Linked DNA regions of Homo sapiens: all the other regions are linked to region 3. Evidence: fine-mapped expression QTL. A gene starts in region 3. Each other region holds a variant in brackets. All regions are shown on one strand. Distances are from middle to middle. Region 1 holds the start of MINDY1 (MINDY lysine 48 deubiquitinase 1). Region 2 overlaps LOC124904410 (a long non-coding RNA gene). Region 3 holds the start of ADAMTSL4 (ADAMTS like 4).

What was found.
Region 1: its variant is fine-mapped to the expression of ADAMTSL4 in whole blood (INTERVAL, PIP above 0.99).
Region 2: its variant is fine-mapped to the expression of ADAMTSL4 in cerebellum (GTEx, PIP 0.95).

Annotation. Positions count from the first base shown.
Region 1 is chr1:151,001,995-151,007,527 of GRCh38, forward strand. MINDY1 (MINDY lysine 48 deubiquitinase 1) reads right to left here and starts at 4,908. Exons shown (of 10, transcript NM_001376665.1): 1 at 4,318-4,908; 2 at 171-712. The coding sequence starts at 623. RefSeq lists enhancers at 4,144-4,403, 4,634-4,813. The variant AAAAAT/A (reference allele first, on the strand shown) is at 2,737.
Region 2 is chr1:149,586,067-149,591,599 of GRCh38, forward strand. The region is part of intron 1 of LOC124904410 (a long non-coding RNA gene); the gene reads left to right. Among named protein-coding and RNA genes, the nearest start is that of PPIAL4C, 5.0 kb to the left of the region's middle. The variant G/A (reference allele first, on the strand shown) is at 2,811.
Region 3 is chr1:150,546,884-150,552,416 of GRCh38, forward strand. ADAMTSL4 (ADAMTS like 4) reads left to right here and starts at 2,525. Exons shown (of 19, transcript NM_019032.6): 1 at 2,525-2,616; 2 at 2,939-3,012; 3 at 5,322-5,425. The coding sequence starts at 5,406. It overlaps LOC124904417, which reads left to right and starts at 3,407. Exons shown (of 1, transcript XM_047438226.1): 1 at 3,407-4,467. The coding sequence starts at 3,407. The coding sequence ends at 4,177. ADAMTSL4-AS2 (ADAMTSL4 antisense RNA 2) reads right to left here. Exons shown (of 6, transcript NR_187269.1): 6 at 1,681-1,867. MIR4257 (microRNA 4257) reads left to right here and starts at 5,046; the gene lies at 5,046-5,131. RefSeq lists silencers at 1,710-2,004, 1,936-2,085, 2,256-2,395 and enhancers at 3,731-4,420, 4,910-5,533.

The sequences.
Region 1 (5,533 bases), 460 kb after region 3:
TTTTTTCTTTGTTTTTAGGAACATCTTATCTCATTTGCTCAAGCTGGAGAAATAGGGAGAACAATCTGAAAAGTTTTGACTAGTTTGAGGACATCAGGATGATCAAGGAAGTAAGTCAGGGAAGAGTACTCCCTGATATTTTTTGCACCCCTAACTGCATGTTCTCTTACCTTCCACTGAAGAAAGAGGATGTTCATGATGGCAAGGAGAGGGCAAGGGCCGTTAGTGCTCTGGGTGATGATGGGTGTCTGTTCTCCTTTCCAAGGGATCCACTTGACACAGTAGAAATCTGGCTCAGGCTGTCGGGTCCTGGGGGACTGAGGAAGCTCCTGGGGCATGGAGCATGCCCTTATTGTCTCTACTTCAGGCAGTGTCCCAAGGGTTGGCCCCGGTGGAGCTGAGCTAGCTTCAGGCAGAGGGGACTCAAGGTTGTCCCCACACTGGCTAGGCAGCAAAGCTTGGTCTGCTGGCTCCCGTTCTCTAGCCTCCCCATCAGCATCTCTTGCATCTGTGTCCTGAGGGTGCTCATCTGGGCCTGCCAGAACCTCATGGTTTTCAGGGATGACTGCTTCTGCAGTCCCGGCCTTACCAGGGGCTGGATCCTCAGGCTGATGGTATTCCATGGTCAAAAGGGACTTGGCTGAGGGGCACTGAAGGTGTTTACTAACCTCAGGGACTTGCCTAAGCCAGGCTTGGGATGCAAAAGAGTGACCTGTCCAATAAGAAGGAAATCAGTGGGCTGGAAAGCAAACTAACCCAGAAAAGTCTTGGAAAAGGAATGTAGTGTAGAAGGCTGGCTAGTGTTTGTGCAGTAACTCCTGGCTATGGGCAGTATATGTGTAAACAGAAGGGCCCCGTGCTGAGCTCTTTCCACCTCTAACTTGCTGTGACCAGATGAGACCAAGAGGTCGTGGGGCTTCCAGACTTGGGAGGGAAGACTGGTGGGATTGAACACATGGGTGGAGTCAGCTTCCCTGAAACAGATCATGACAGGGAAGGGAGGAAAGACAGAGAGAAAGGGAGAGCACAAAGGAGAAAGAAGGATAAGAGGTGGAGAAAGAAATGTTAAATCTACGCTAATGGTTATTAATATGATGATCTTTAGCTTACTCTAATAGGCATCACATCAGTAACCCCCTCATAGCCATGACAGAGATAATTCCTCTGCCCTACCCCACACCCTGCCCCTTCACACAACATACTAAGAATACACAGTGCTTGTATGTTTAGGGATACCTTCTCTCTGCCTCACCCAAGGATAAAAAGATTAAGTCACATAGTACTTGGGGTGAAGAATGGAGGAGGCACAGAGAGTCAGTTTCATGCCCCTAAAGGTGAAATGCTGGTGAGGAAGGGGAAGTCTTCCACCTCAAAGGGCTCTACTGAACCTTACACAATCCCAAACCACAGTATAAAGGCCTTGGGAGGGGTTTCCTGTAAGCTGGGAGGGGAAATGTAGGTGGTGGGGGCTGGAATCAGAGACTGGTTTTGATAAATAACTTCAGATTAGGGGCACAAAAAGCACTCCCCACAAGTTCTTCCAGTAAGCTTCTCTTTAAAAAAAATTAATAAAGATATCAAATTTCTTTTAATTAAACTGAGACAGGGTCTTGCTTTGTTGCCTAGGCTGGTCTTAACTCCTGGGGGCCCAAGCAATCCGCCCTCCTCAGCCTGCCAAAGGACTGGGATTACAGGCATGAGCCACGGTGCCTGGACCCAGTAAGCATCTCTTGACAGCTAGCATTGAGACAGCAACTTTTCCTCAGTTCATTTTTTTTCCCCAGAAACTACCTAAACCCAGAGGTACTCTCTTGCCTGCTATTTCTATGAAATATGAAAATGCTGATTATTAATTTACATAACAATACTTCCTGTACATTCACCTACCTAAAGTTTTATGTCTATTCCCATCCAAGTGGTTTTATTTATTTATTTTTATTTTTTTGAGACAGAGTTTTGCTCTTGTTGCCTAGGTTGGAGTGCAATGGTGCGACCTCGGCTCACTGCAACCTCTGCCTCCTGGGTTCAAGTGATTCTCCTGCCTCAGCCTCCCGAGTAGCTGGGATTACAGGCATGCAACACCATGCCCAGCTAATTTTGTATTTTTTAGTAGAGATGGAGTTTCTCCATGTTGGTCAGGCTGGTCTTGAACTTCCGACCTCAGGTGATCCTCCCACCTTGGCCTCCCAAAGTGCTGGGATTACAGGCATGAGCCACCGTGCCCAGTCCTCTCCAGGTCATTTTAGATGTGAACACCGGACCTGTTTAACCTGTTCTCTATCAGCACTGGAGGCACATTGAGGCAAGCACAGATAGACATTTAACTAATACTGTGGGTATAAATAATAAAAAACCACAAATCCTGCCCTTTGGAAAACATCTCCCTTCAATCTCCTTGCTCCCCTCCCACTCTTTATCAGGGAGAGAAACAGGGAGAAATTAAACTAGTTAGGGGCCAGGCGCGGTGGCTCACGCCTGTAATCCCAGCACTTTGAGAGGCTGAGGCGGGCAGATTACTTGAGGTCAGGAGATCGAGACCATCCTGGCTAACATGGCAAAACGCTGTCTGTATTGAAAGTACAAAAATTAGCCAGGTGTGTTGGCACGTGCCTGTAGTCACAGCTGCTCGGGAGGCTGAGGTGGGAGAATTGCTTGAACCTGGGAGGCAGGGGGTTGCAGTGAGCTGAGATGGTGACACTGCACTACAGCCTGGGTGACAGAGCGAAACTCCATCTC[AAAAAT/A]AAAATAAAATAAAATAAAATAAAATAAAATAAAATAAAATAAAATAAAATAAATTAAACTAGTTAGAAATCTTGTCTTTTCTCCACCCTCCTCCCAGCCTGAGACTGCTTCCTTCTTGTAAACCTACAGGAATTTGGGGCTAGGGGAAGGCCTGGGAGATGAGGTTGAGGAACATTAAAGTTACTGAAACAAAATAAGCCTAGTCACTCAAATTGATTATCCTCTTGATTCACATATGTTTATGCTAGCTGCATATCATTTACGTGTTGTTAATTTAGAATCAGAGTAGCAAAAATTGCCTGCAGGCCTTATGCTTTTTTTTCTCTCTCTTTCTCTCTCTCCTTTCCTTCTCCCCTTAAATGACACTTAGGGTGAACCTCAAAGCAGATGCCAGAGCCTGGAAAAGTGAAAAAGCTTGAAGAAAAGCAGGCCTTGGCCGGGCACAGTGCCTCACACCTGTATCCCAGCACTTTGAGAGGCCGAGGCGGGCGGATCACCTGAGGTCAGGAGCTCAAGATCGGCCTGGCTAACATGGCGAAACCCCATCTCTACTAAAAATACAAAAATTAGCCGGGCACGGTGGCGGGCACCTGTAATCCCAGCTACTCAGGAGGCTGAGGCAGGAGAATTGCTTGAACCCCGGAGGTGGAGGTTGCAGTAAGCCAAGATTGTGCCTCTGCACTCCAGCCTGGGTGACAAGAGTGAGACTCTTGCCTCCAAAAAAAAAAAGAAAAAAAGAAAAAAAAAAAAGAAAAGCAGGCCTTATTTTTTATATTTTCTCTCCAGTGCCAGAAATGATCAATGATGAAGTGGGGGTTGGGCAGCTAGCTGGCTGGAGAGGTGAGCCAAAGGAACCCAGGAGTGGACACCTGAGGGAGTGGGGTCTCAGAGGAACTGGGCAGAGCTAAATGGGCTAAGTCTTAAGAGGCAGGGGCAGGAAATGTAATGGAGGCTTTCTACTCTACAACGTCCAATCCTGCTGGGGAGGGCATGGAGTATTTCAGAGTAGGAAAGAATGAGGGAGAGGATAGTCAGATAAATCAAAGTTTCATTCTTTTCCTCCTCTTTCTTAGCTCGTCAAATCCTACACTTTCTCTCCAGCTGGAATTATGGTGGTGAGTGAGGGAGTTAAAATAATCCTGGCTCCTCCCTAATCAATGGCAGTAGAGAGCCGAAAGTTGGAAGAAGCACGTAAAACAGGTATGTAGCTTCAAGAAGACACTCCTTCTCTGTAGGAACAGTTCCCTTACTGTCTCACACCAATCTCCTTCTTAGTCTGACCTATGTCTTTGTGCAATCAATAGTTTAGATTTTCATCTCAGAATATGTCAACCATGGCCACAGTGCCCTGTATACTTGCTCACAAGGAGAGGGGGAAGGTTTCGTGCTTTCATTAAAAGGAGGAGGACCAAGCAGCATCCCCTTTACATGTCTCTCCTGACTTAGCTCCTCTAAGCAATCCAGACTTGCAGACCAAAGGTGGAAGGACAGCAGGTGTCAGCTCCCCAAAGCTGGAGAGGAAATAGAGAAGGGTGGGAGAAGAGGTGAAGAAGATGATTAAAATAAAGTTTTTACCTTAAAGAAGGGGGTGCTGTTCCAAGATTGAGAAGGAGGGTTCAGCCGTGGCAATGAGATGGGGGAGATAGGTGCAATGAAGGGGGCTGCCAGTGCCAGCTGCCTTCCAGCTGTCAACGCCTGAGCTTATACAGGTTTACACAGCTTTATAAGCGACGGTCCAGGCTGGGTTGTGGCCACTTCCGGACTCACGCCCAGTACTGGGGGCACTGGAGGAGGGTGAAGGCAGGCAGGGACACAGCCAAGGTGCTCCAGGTCGCTCAGAGAGTCTTCAGGATTCCTGAGTCGCCGAGTCTATGGCATGCGCTCCGGGCCCTGACTACAAGCTGGTTTTCAAAGGAAGTTTGTGGTTTTTCTTTTCTTCTCTCTCTCTTTTTTGTTCTCATCAGGACGAAGAAAAATTAGGCAAGGACAAGCTCCCTGGAGGAGGAGGGGCCTGCCCAGCGCTGGTGGATTTCCATCAGGACTTTCTGACCCGGTCAGCAGCTTTGTGATCAGCAGAGAGGGAGCGAGAAACAGGAGAGAAAAACAACAGACCCTTTCTCTTCCCTCTGCCTGCCTCTAGAAGGGACGGAGCGCTTGTGCCTCTCTGGTGAGAATAGGGAAGAGCAAGTGCCCTTGCTAAGTAGGGAGGAGAAGGGCTGGACAGAAGCAGCTTGTTGGATCTGGGCTCTCTCTCTGGGTATGGCAGTCCTTTGCTCTGGATCCACAGAAGCAGGAGCAAAGAGCACGATATTTGCATGTATTACTCAATTAATGTTAAAAACAAACAAACAAACCCAGCTCTTTTCCCTCTGGAGCCCTCCAGAGAGCTCCTTTCCAAGTCCTTGCTGTATCATTTTTAAGTCTAGAAATGAAACTGGTTGGGTTGTGCACCTGGTAGAGTGCAGAGGGTGTGGTAGAAGCCCCAGGCTCTGGGCGCGATGGCTGACGCCTGTAATCCCAGCACTTTGGGAAGCCAAGGCGGGCGGATCACAAGGTCAAGAGATCAAGACCAACCTGGCCAACATAGTGAAACCCCATCTCTACTAAAAATACAAAAATTAGCAGGGCATGGTGGCACATGCCTGTAGTCCCAGCTACTCGGGAGGCTGAGGCAGGAGAATCGCTTGAACCCGGGAGGTGGAGGTTGCAGTGAGCCAAGATCCTGCCACTGCACTCCAGCCTGAAGACGGAGCAAGACTCCGTCTCAAAAAGAAGAAGAAGAAGAAAAGAA
Region 2 (5,533 bases), 960 kb before region 3:
AGATAGCTCAACAAACATATGTCTTTTTAAATTAAGATATATTCTGTGTCACATGAAGTACAATGGACAAAATGCAACAAATTGAATTGAGCTAAAGACCAAATATATATTAAGCCTGGCTGGTCTTAAAAATGTAACTGGATACAGCCAGGCATGGTGGCTCACGCCTATAATCCCAGCACTTTGGGATCCTGAGGTGGGCAGATCACCTGAAGTCAGGAGTTTGAGACCAGCCTGGCCAGCATGGTGAAACCCCATCTCTACTAAAAATGCAAAAATTAGCTGGGTGTGGTGGTATGCCCCTGTAATCCCAGCTACTGGGGAGGTTGAGGCAGGAGAATCACTTGAACCTGGGAGGCAGAGGTTGCAGTGAGCCGAGATCATGCCAATGCACTCCAGCTTTGGCAACAGAGTGAGACTTTGTTTCAAAATAAAAAAATAAAAATAAAAAAATAAAAATGTAACTGGATAGACCTAAGGTTCTTGAATAAGCAGAAAATAATTTAGGTAAAAACCAAATAATAAACTAACATTCTGAAAGGTTTAGGATTTGGAGGCCCAAATGTCTTAGCTAAAAGTGTTCATTCTAACCTCACAGGAAAATTGAAATATGAAAATATACAGAAAAATCTTAGGCAGTATATGTCAATTTTAAGAAACAACTATTTACAGGTTTTTCAACAGGCATTACATTAAAAATGAAATATGTAGTTAATAAATATGAAAACTGTGGATATAATCAACACATTTATTTTACTTCTTGAAGTGTTAACATGTGCTGTCTCAAATATCAACAGTGTACACGTGAGAAAAAACATTTTACATAGATTTTCTGCGACAGAAAACAGCATCTCATTAGACATCCCAAGTTTTTTCATTTGGAACACACACCCATTCCCCAGTATACTAGGGGTAATAATAATTTAAAGAGTTTAATTACTTTTTACTACTAGAAAACTAATTTTATGTTTGGCACAAATTTCTGAAATGATATTCCACTGCAAAGAATAATACCTATATATGGCCAGAATTACTTTTTTTCTATAACATTAAGATAATACTTGTCAGCCTGAGCAACAAAGTGAGACCTCATCTTTACAAAAAATAAATAAATTAGATGGGTGTTTTGGTGATGAGGGTCTGTAGTCCCAGATACTCAAGAGGCTGAGGTGGGAGGATCCCTTGAGCCTAGGAGGTTGCGGTTGCAGTGAACTATGATTGCACCACTGCACTCCAGCCTGGGTAACAGAGCAAGATCCTGTCTCAAAAAAAAAAAAAAAAAAGATAATATTGGTATAATTCAGGGTTTTTGCCTCAATCCCCATGCTTCTTCATTTGACCTTCCCTGACTCCCTGATGAATTTTAGTTTGAATTTTTGCTATAGTCCAGAAGTTAATTTAAAAGATCTTAAAATTTCCACCTGCCTAGATATTACTTATTTGTTACACTTTAGTCCATGATTTCTATTGTCATTTACATTACCCCAAAAATATGACCTGCTGAATTTCTGCTGTCATGAATTGACTAACATATTTTGGGCCTAATACCTTCACATTTAGAATGTTTTTGTTTTGTATTGGAAAATATTGTAAGTCCTCCATTTATTGGTCAAAAGCACTGCCTATTTATTTCCATGCTTAATCAGAGAGACTTTCTAATAGTTATTTAATATTATTTACGTTCATTCACTTGTTGACTATAATGACGTTAGTTGCTATGATATTTTTAGGTCATTAATATAATAAAAATATGTCAACTTTTCTCTTCCAATGTGTCTTTGGGTTATTAATTTTTAACTCAGGTATCAAGCTTGTAAAATGTTTAATGGCTTATAATAATGTCTAACACATAGTATCCACTGAGTTCTGATAACTCCGGTTTATCAAATTCTCTTTTTTTGTACCATTCTCCAAATGCAATGCTATTTGGTTTTATTTTTATTTTTTAAAAATGTGCTGCCTGTTTTGAGTCTCTAAAAGTGTGAAATGCTCAGCATTTCCCAAATGTATTTGAACATGGAGTGTTATATTTACTAAAAAGTTAACAAGCAAGTATTCCCCTAAACACTCTAGCAAATACTACTAGTACAGACAAATTATGATGTAACATTATAGTACATTTTAACTTATTAGGTTAATTTTGGTTGCAAACAATCAAAATTCAAAATGGCTTGTATAATAAAGAGATTTTGAACAATAGTATAGGCTCAAGATAGTTTAATGCAGAAGTTTAATAATGACACAAAATAAATGCTTCTTGTCCTCCCTGTTTCTTCACTCTACCTTAAGTGATATAGATTGAATGTTTGTAGTCCCCCAAAATTTGTATGTTTAAATCTAATCCCTAGTGTGATGATATTTGGCAGTGGGTCTTCGGGGGGTGATTAGGTCATGAGGACAGAGCCCTCATGAATGGGATTAGTGCCCTTATAAAAGAGACCTTAGAGAACTTCCTAGCCCCTTCCACCATGTGAGGACACAGCAAAAAGACAGCTGTCTGTGAACCAGGAAACAAATCCTCATTAGACCCTGAATCTGTTGACACCTTGATCTTGGACTTCCTGGCCTCTAGAACTGTAAGAAATAAATTTATGTTGTTCATAAACCATCCAGGCTGTGATATTCTGGTATAGCGACCTGAAAGGACTAAGACATTAGGTCTCAGTTTTATTCTATGGCTTAAAATATCATGTCATGAGTAGACAACTTCCAATCCTAGTACCTCGTGCTTCCTCTGCTGCATTTGGAAAGAAGGCATTTACCCCTTCAATCATGGAATGAAAAAGTTGTACTTCATTCTGATTTGATTA[G/A]CAGAAGGCACAGGTTCCTTCATGCACCAATTACAATGACCAAGAATTGGGCATGGGACTCATGTCACTTAAACATTGTGAAGCTGAGAAATTCATTATTTGGTTAGGAGTGTGTGAGAGCAGGGAACACTGAATGCTTGAGACACCACCACGATGTCCACTACATGTATTTCCATTTCAGTAAACATTTCCATTAAGATAATGCTAGAACAAAATCAGAGGAGTAGATCTTGGTGTCCCCAACTTTTGTTGACCTAACAAAGTGAAGTTGCTTCAACTGGACACTTCTGAACCACATTTATGCCTATATGTTCAGTTCAAATTTATTATAAGCAATTTTCAGGTCCATATGTTTAGGATATTTCATTTGTTTGGTTATGCATTATATGTATACATGTTTTTAACATACATACGCCTCTACATATATTTTGGAGGCCTTTACACAAAAGTGTTTTCCCTAAAGGGAGAAGAGAAAAGTTGAATGCAGAAGTAGAAAAAAAGATTCATTTGCACTTGTAGTATTTATAGCTAAATATTTTATATTACAGATGTATTAAAATTTTTATAATTTTAAACACTACTTTAAAACAGGGAGATGGTTTACCTTCAAAAAATTTGGCTCTCAACTCAAAGTTATCAAAGTATATCCTAGATGTAGTTTGCTTGTCAGGCTTCTACATGAAAATCTAAAATGCTCCTGCATTTCAGAATGAGCCTAACATATGTAATTGCACTCATCCACTATGTCTACATTGCCAACCAAATACTGACAGAGAGAGCTAGAGTGCCACAGAGAGCTGGCAGTTCCTCTGTTTGCATTAGCTTCTACTTGCTTCTTCATCTTTCCTCTATGTCTGACACATTTCATGTTACTGTTTTTAAATGTTCCCTTAGCTACAGAGCTAATGTGCTTATATCTGTAAGGGGTCTCATGTGAACCTCTAAATAATTAAAGATTCATTAGCTCCCTGGAGGGCCACCATGATTTCCAAAACAAGTCACAATACCTAAAGATCTAATTGTACAATTTCCCTCAGAAATAGCCTTGAGAAAGAAGTCACATCACTCAGCAATGAGTATTATAATTACTCACAGCAGTTTTCATGGTACTATATAACATCCAATTTACAGAATTAAAGGTAATGTAATTCGAAAGAAAAATAGCTGGTTTTAAGGAATGAAGGGCCATGTCAACTATTGGAAGCATCTTTGAACTGGAGCCTCTATGTTCGGGTTTCACCAGGTTTATGTTTTTAATTAATATCCTATTCAGCTTGCTGTAATTTCCATTGAGGTTTTCTAGAACAAGACAAGTCAGAAATTGATCTTTAATTATAAGCTAAGAGCAAACTGCCAAAGAACTGAGAGAAATTTTGAAGAAACAGGTCTATCAGGACTAACCATTTTAAGATAATAAAGACTAATCAGACACACACACATATGCACAAAAAGAGGGAGAGAGAGAACAAAAATCCTATGAAATACATTTTAAAAACTTAATTTTTTTAAGAAGAAGCATTTGATCTGCCAAAGAGAAGAGTTAGCAGTTTGGAGATCTGACATTGCTAATCTCAGGGCAAGAAAATAACAAAATAAGACACCAAAGAATTACCTAAACTGTGGAAGATGAAGCTTTCAGAGTTCTCACAGAGAGATGGGATACTAAAGTACCAAGTTTAAGAGGTGTAATCTATTAATGTTTAATTTATGTCCCAAATACTTAAAAACTATGTTTCATTGTTATACATATTTATTTTATTATAAAGATAATGAATGCAGTAGGGTTAGATTTAAATAATTCATTGGGTTTAAAATGAGAAATGAAAGTCTGGCTTTTTACAACCTACAGTCTTATCACCAAAGTTAGCTATTGTTAATAACTTCTTGTCCATTCTTGTATGTGTTATGGTTTCTTTCTTAGAAAGAAGTATGCTATACTAGTATACATGCTATTTATTCATGAACCTTGCACTTATCATGTAATCATATGTCTTAGTGGTCTTTTCATAATAGATGTCTCTCTTTCCCACGCTGTCAGTGGTGATTGCATGAGGCATTGTACAGACGTACCAATAATTACTTACTCTGTGTCATATTGTTGGTTATTCAGATTGTTTTCACTTTGTCCTTGCAGACAACACTGCAACGAACATACTTATGCATATCTTATTCCAAATACATCATCGTGATGGCTGTGTGAGAGAAATATACATTGTTGATTTTATTTTTTTATTTTTTATAATTTCAACTTTTGATTTTAGATACAGTGGGTACATGTGCAGGTTTGTTACATGGGTATGTTGTGTAATGCTGAGGTTTGCGGCATGATTGATCCGATCACTCAGGTACTAGACATAGTAGTTGTTTTTCAACCTTTACCCCCTCCCTCCTTCTACCCTCGAGTAGTCCCCAGTTTCTATTGTTCCCATCTTTGTGTCCACGTGTACTCAATGTTTAGCTCCTGCTTATAAGTGAGAATATGTGGTATTTGGTTTTCTATTCCTGTGTTAATTCGCTTAGCATAATGGCATCGAGTTGCATCCATGTTGCTGTAAAGGACATGATTTTATTCTTTTTTATGGCTGCAAAGTATTCCATGACATATATGTACCATATTTTCTTTATCCAAGCCACAGTTGATGGGCACCTAGGTTGATTCCATGTCTTAGCGATTGTGAATTACACTGCTGATTTTAATAGAAACCACTAATTTTTATGCCAAA
Region 3 (5,533 bases):
TTGTGAGGATGCAGGACAATGTTGTTAGAGCTTCTATTTTTGTGTTTTAGTTTTTCAAGAGAAATTTTAAAATATCCAGGTTTTAAAATACGTATTGACAAGTTATTTAAAAAAAAAAAATGTGCCTTTAGGTTGGGCCCAGTGGCTCACACATGTAATCCCGGCATTTTAGGAGCCCAAGGAAGGAGGATTTCTTGAGCCCAGGAGTTTGAAACTAGCCTGTCTTAAAAACAAAAAACAAACAAACAAAAACCTTTAAAACACTGAGTAGACCCAACAAAATACAACGCGTCAGTAAATAGAAAGTAAAAATATAGGCCGGGAGCAGTGGCTCATGTCTGTAATCCCAGCACTTTGGGAGGCTGAGGCGGACGGATCATGAGGTCAGGAGTTCGAGACCAGCCTGGCCAACATGGTGAAACCCCATCTCTACTAAAGATACAAAAAATTAGCCAGGCGTGGTGGCTCGTGCCTGCAATCCCACCTACTCAGGAGGCTGAGGCAGGAGAATGGCTTGAACCCAGGAGGCAGAGGTTGCAGTGAGCTGAGATGGCGCCATTGCACTCCAGCCTGGGTGACAGGACAAGACTCCTTCTCAAAAAAAAAAAAGTAAAATATAAAAATAGCAGTGACCATTTATTGTCTACTCTATGCCAGCCATTTTACATATTTTATTTATTTATGTGTTTATTTTTTGAGACGAGGTCTCTCTCTGTCGCAGGGGCTGGAGTGCAGTGGCACGATCATAGTTCACTGCAGCCTCAAACTCCTGGGCTCAAGCAATCCTCCCCGCTCAGCCTCCTGAGTAGCTAGGACTACAGGCTTTCACCACCATGCCCAGCTTACATATATTATTTATAATAAATAATAGCCAGGCGCGGTGGCTCACGCCTATAATCCCAGAACTTTGGGAGGCCGAGGCAGGAGGATCACTTGAGGTCGGGAGTTGGAGGCTAGCCTGACTAACATGGAGAAATCCCGTCTCTACTAAAAAATATAAAATAAGCCAGGCATGGTGGCGCATGCCTCTAATCCCAGCTACTTGGGAGGCTGAGGCAGGAGAATCACTTGAACCTGGGAGGCGGAGGTTGCAGTGAGCCGAGATCGCGCCACTGCACTCCAGCCTGGGCAACAAGAGTGAAACTCCATCTCAAAAAAAAAAAGAAAAAAAAAAGATAAAACTAATAGATGGATTGCTCTTGTGGTTAAAAAAATTCACAAAAATAACATTACATAGCTGGGTGCGGTGGCTCACGCCTGTAATCCCAGCACTTTGGGAGGCCGAGGCGGACGGATCACGAGGTCAGGAGATCGAGACCATTCTGGCTAACACGATGAAACCCCGTCTCTACTAAAAATACAAAAAATTAGCCGGGCGTGGTGGCAGACGCCTGTAGTCCCAGCTACTCAGGAGGCTAGGGCAGGAGAATGGCGTGAACCTGGGAGGCGGAGCTTGCAGTGAGCCAAGATAGCACCACTGCACTCCAGCCTGGACGACAGAGTGAGACTCCGTCTCAAAAAAAATAAATAAATAATAATATAATAATAATAAACATAACGCAGAGTAAAAAGCAAAAGCCTTTTTCAGTCCTCCCCCAACCCTGCATCCCTCCCCAGATGTCACCAATACTACTGAGTTTGGGGTGCATTCTTCCATGTATAAATGCATAAAGAGACATATCCAAGCCCATCATATATATTAGATTAGTCCCATTTTGCAGATGAGCAAACTGCACCACACAGGGGTGGAAGTATTCGTCGAAGACCACATAGCTGGCAAGAGCTGGAGCTGAGGTTCAAATCCAGATCAGTCTGACTCAGAAGTCAGCACGCTGTCCTTTCGCTGAGTCCCGAGTGTAAAACCTTACTGAGGAAAAAAACCGAAGCTCATAGAAGTCCCAGCAATCTGAACCACCACTGCCCAACACGGGAGAGGCAGGAGTGACTGAGTTTGCAGGGGAGGCTGCGTGGAGGGGAGAGCCTGGACCCACGCGGATCGGGGGCCGCGGGTACCTCCGTCCAGGGCGCTTCCCTCCCGGACCAGCGGCTCTCCCAGGCCGCCTCGCTCCAGGCGCCCCTGGAGGCTGCCCCGCCTGTGCCGCGCCGCGCCGCGCCGTGTTCGCACCGCTCACCCGAGCGGCTCGGAGGCCCGGGTTGCTTAAGTCCCTAGTCTCAGCCGGGCACGAGGACAGCGCCCGGGAGCGACTGCAGCCTCTGACCCCGGCTGGGCCAGCCCGGGCTGCTTAAGTCCCTAGTCTCGGCCGGGCACGAGGACAGCGCCCGGGAGCGACTGCAGCCTCCGACCCCGGCTGGGCCAGCCCGGGCTTCAGCTCACGCAGCCGTCGGGGGGCGCCCGGCGCGCAGCCCGGGGTGGGTGGTCCTGGCGAGTGGGGCTGCGAGGCAGACCGGCCCCACCCCGGGGCCGCCGAGGGGCGCGGGCTGGGGCGCGTGGCGGGCGGGGCTGGGCGGGGGCGGGCGCGAGGGCGGAGTTGCGGCCGAGGCGGCCGTGACCGGAGCGCGGCTCAGGGGCCCCAGTGGCCGCCGCGGAGCGAGGTTGCCTGGAGAGAGCGCCTGGGCGCAGAAGGGTTAACGGGCCACCGGGGGCTCGCAGAGCAGGTAGAGACCTCCCCGGGACCCCGGCCCCGGCCGCCCCTCTCCCGGGTCCCGTTAGACCGCCCGCCCCGCGCGCCCGCGTCGTCCCCTCTCCCTGCGCTGTGCGGTCGCGACCCCGCCACGACCCCGGACCCAGCTCCGGTGGCCTCGGACAATCTTCCAGCCCCTGGGGTCGAATTCCTGGGGAGGGAGTCTGATCCCGTGGAACTCTGGCCCCATCACCCGGGCGGGGAGTGAACCAAAATTCCTCCTAAGTCACATAGTAAAGTTGGAAAACAGACCCATGACCTCCCCGCGCGGCCGGTGCCTCCTGCCCTCTCTCTAGGAGGGTGCTCTCGGACGGTGTGTCCCCCACTGCACTCCTGAACTTGGAGGACAGGGTCGCCGCGAGGGACGCAGGTGGGTGCCCTTGATCCAGCTCAGCCCGATGGCAGAAGAGGTTGACAAAAAAGAAAGACACCTGTTGGGGTGGCCTGCCAGACCCAGGAGTGGAGGGCTCTGAGGGCCCGGGAATTCGGACTCAGGACAGGGATTCTCCATGGCTAGGCCCAGAAACACAGGGTCCAACCACTCTCCAGCAGGGAGACCTGGGGGTGAAGGGGTGAGCCCTGCGCAGGTCTCTGTTCCTTGGTCTTCACTGGGCAGTGTGGAGAGGTGTGGCCAGGAGGAGCCCGCGTTTGTCCAGACCAGGGTCTACTCTGGCACCAGAGTGACCACCTCTGACCTCTCCTTTCCTCGTCCTGGGCCGGGAACGACACCAAATGAGGGACATGGAAAGGGGTGAGAAGCATAAATGTGCGTGTGTTTCTGCAGAGGAGGGGGCATGGGCCCCTGCCGGGCTGCGCAGGGGAGGGTGGGGTGGGACTTTTCCAGAGAGGGAGCCAGGCCTGGCCCGGGCCCCGGGAGCTCACGTCACCCCCACCCCTCACTTCTCCAGGGAACTGCCAAAGCCAAACCCAGCTCGGGATGGGATTATGTGTACTGGGTAGACCCGTGGAGAGGGGCTGCGAGAAGAGATCTCGGTGGCAGAGAGAAGCAGAGGCAGAGAGGGCATGAAGAGGGGTCGGCATCAGAGAAGGGGCAGGCAGTGACTATCACCCCATTTCTTCTTCCCTCAGCTGGAGTAACAAGAGTCAGGCAGAGCCTGAAGACTTGGGTGGAACATGGGCCCTTCTCTGGAGATCCTGGCCTCCCCCGTTCAGTCAGGGTGGAGTTGCTGACCTTAGTGGCCGGCCCAGCCAGGGGAAGGAGTGGCCATCGGCAACCCCCACCCCAACCCCAATCCCTGAGGCGCCCGCTCTGGCTCAGCCACTCTGACCCCTCCCTCAAATTCCGAACCCTAGGTCTCAGGGAGGGCAGTGGGGCTGAGTGTCTGCCCCCAGGCACATTCCTACCCTTCTCTTGGTCATTTTCTGCCCCAGAGCTGGCCCACCTCAGCAATGCGAGGGCTCCCTGGATTCCTCTCCCGGGTGCCTTTCAGATCCAACAGAAACAGATTTTTTTTTTCCTGGAAAGCAGAACTAAGAGTGGGATGAGGAGCAGGGGTGGGAAGGACTCAAAGTGAGAAGAAGGGGGCAAAGAGAGTCAGGCTTGGTGGCTGGGGTGGCTTCCAAGCCTCACTTCTCCAGTGTTCAAAGCTGAACTTCAGATGGACTTCCCGGCTCTTCAGAATGAGAGGCCTGTGGCTGGGGCATGAGGCAGCCCCGGCTGCACCTCTCCTTCCCGCTTCCCCAGCTGGTAGAGACGCACAGGAAACAAGCCCTCACTGAACCAACTCCAGATGCTGGCACCCAGAGTGGGTGTTACATTGCCGGCTTCTTCTCTAGAGATTAAACCGTCAACCCATTTAGCTTATCCCTTGGCCAAAAAGTGTATGAGATGTGCCTGGATGTTCCCTAAAGAGCTTATCTAAGAAGGGAAGAGAAAGCCGGGAGGCAAGTAGGACAGAGAGATGACTGGGGAAGGTCTTGTGTCTGGAAGACCCAAGGAAGGGGCTTCTGGTGGGTCCTCAGAGAGAGTGTCTGGCGCATCCTCAGTGGAGCCTTCCTCCTCTACTTTCTAGGCACCTCTGGGAGGGCAGGAGTGGGAGCAGATGACAACCATTTTAGAAGGAGCCCTCTGGCTGGGTGCGGTGGCTCACACCTGTCATCCCAGCACTTTGGGAGGCCAAGGCAGGAGAAGCGCTTGAGGCCTGGAGTTCAAGACCAGCCTGTGCAATTTAGCTGGATCCCATCTCCACCAAAAAATACCAAAATTAGCTGGGTGTGGTGGTGCACGCATGTAGTCCCACCTACTCAGGAGGCTGAGGAAGGAGAGCCTGTGAGTTTGAGGCTGCAATGAGCTTTGGTGGCACCACTGCCCTCCAGCCTGGATGACAGAGTGAGATCTCCATCTCAAAAAAAAAAAAAAAGCCTTTTGTGTGTGCCTGAGCCGGCTTAGAAACAGTCCCTAGGTAGGATTTGGGGAGGAGCTAAGAAGCCCCTACAGGGCCCAGAGGTGGGGACTGAGCCTTAGTTGGAGGGCTGAGGTCAGCCCCTGACCATGTAGCCTCTACAGATGGACAAGGCAGTGATCCTCCCTGCTCCCACCCTGAGGATCCTAAAGGGATGGACCAGTTTCACCCCCTCCTCCATATTCTCTGAGCTGTCCTCCCAGCCCCAAGCTCTCTGGACACTGGAGAGGTAACCACCAGGCTTCTGTCCCTGCAGAGAGCACCCTCCACGCCCAGATGCCTGCGTAGTTTTTGTGACCAGTCCGCTCCTGCCTCCCCCTGGGGCAGTAGAGGGGGAGCGATGGAGAACTGGACTGGCAGGTGAGAGAAGGGGCCACGGGTTGGGGGGGAGGAAAAGGGGAGGTGCTGGGATGGCTCTGTGTCTGGAAGTGAGGGAAAGGGGACCACTGGGAGGGGCAGGGGAAGTGA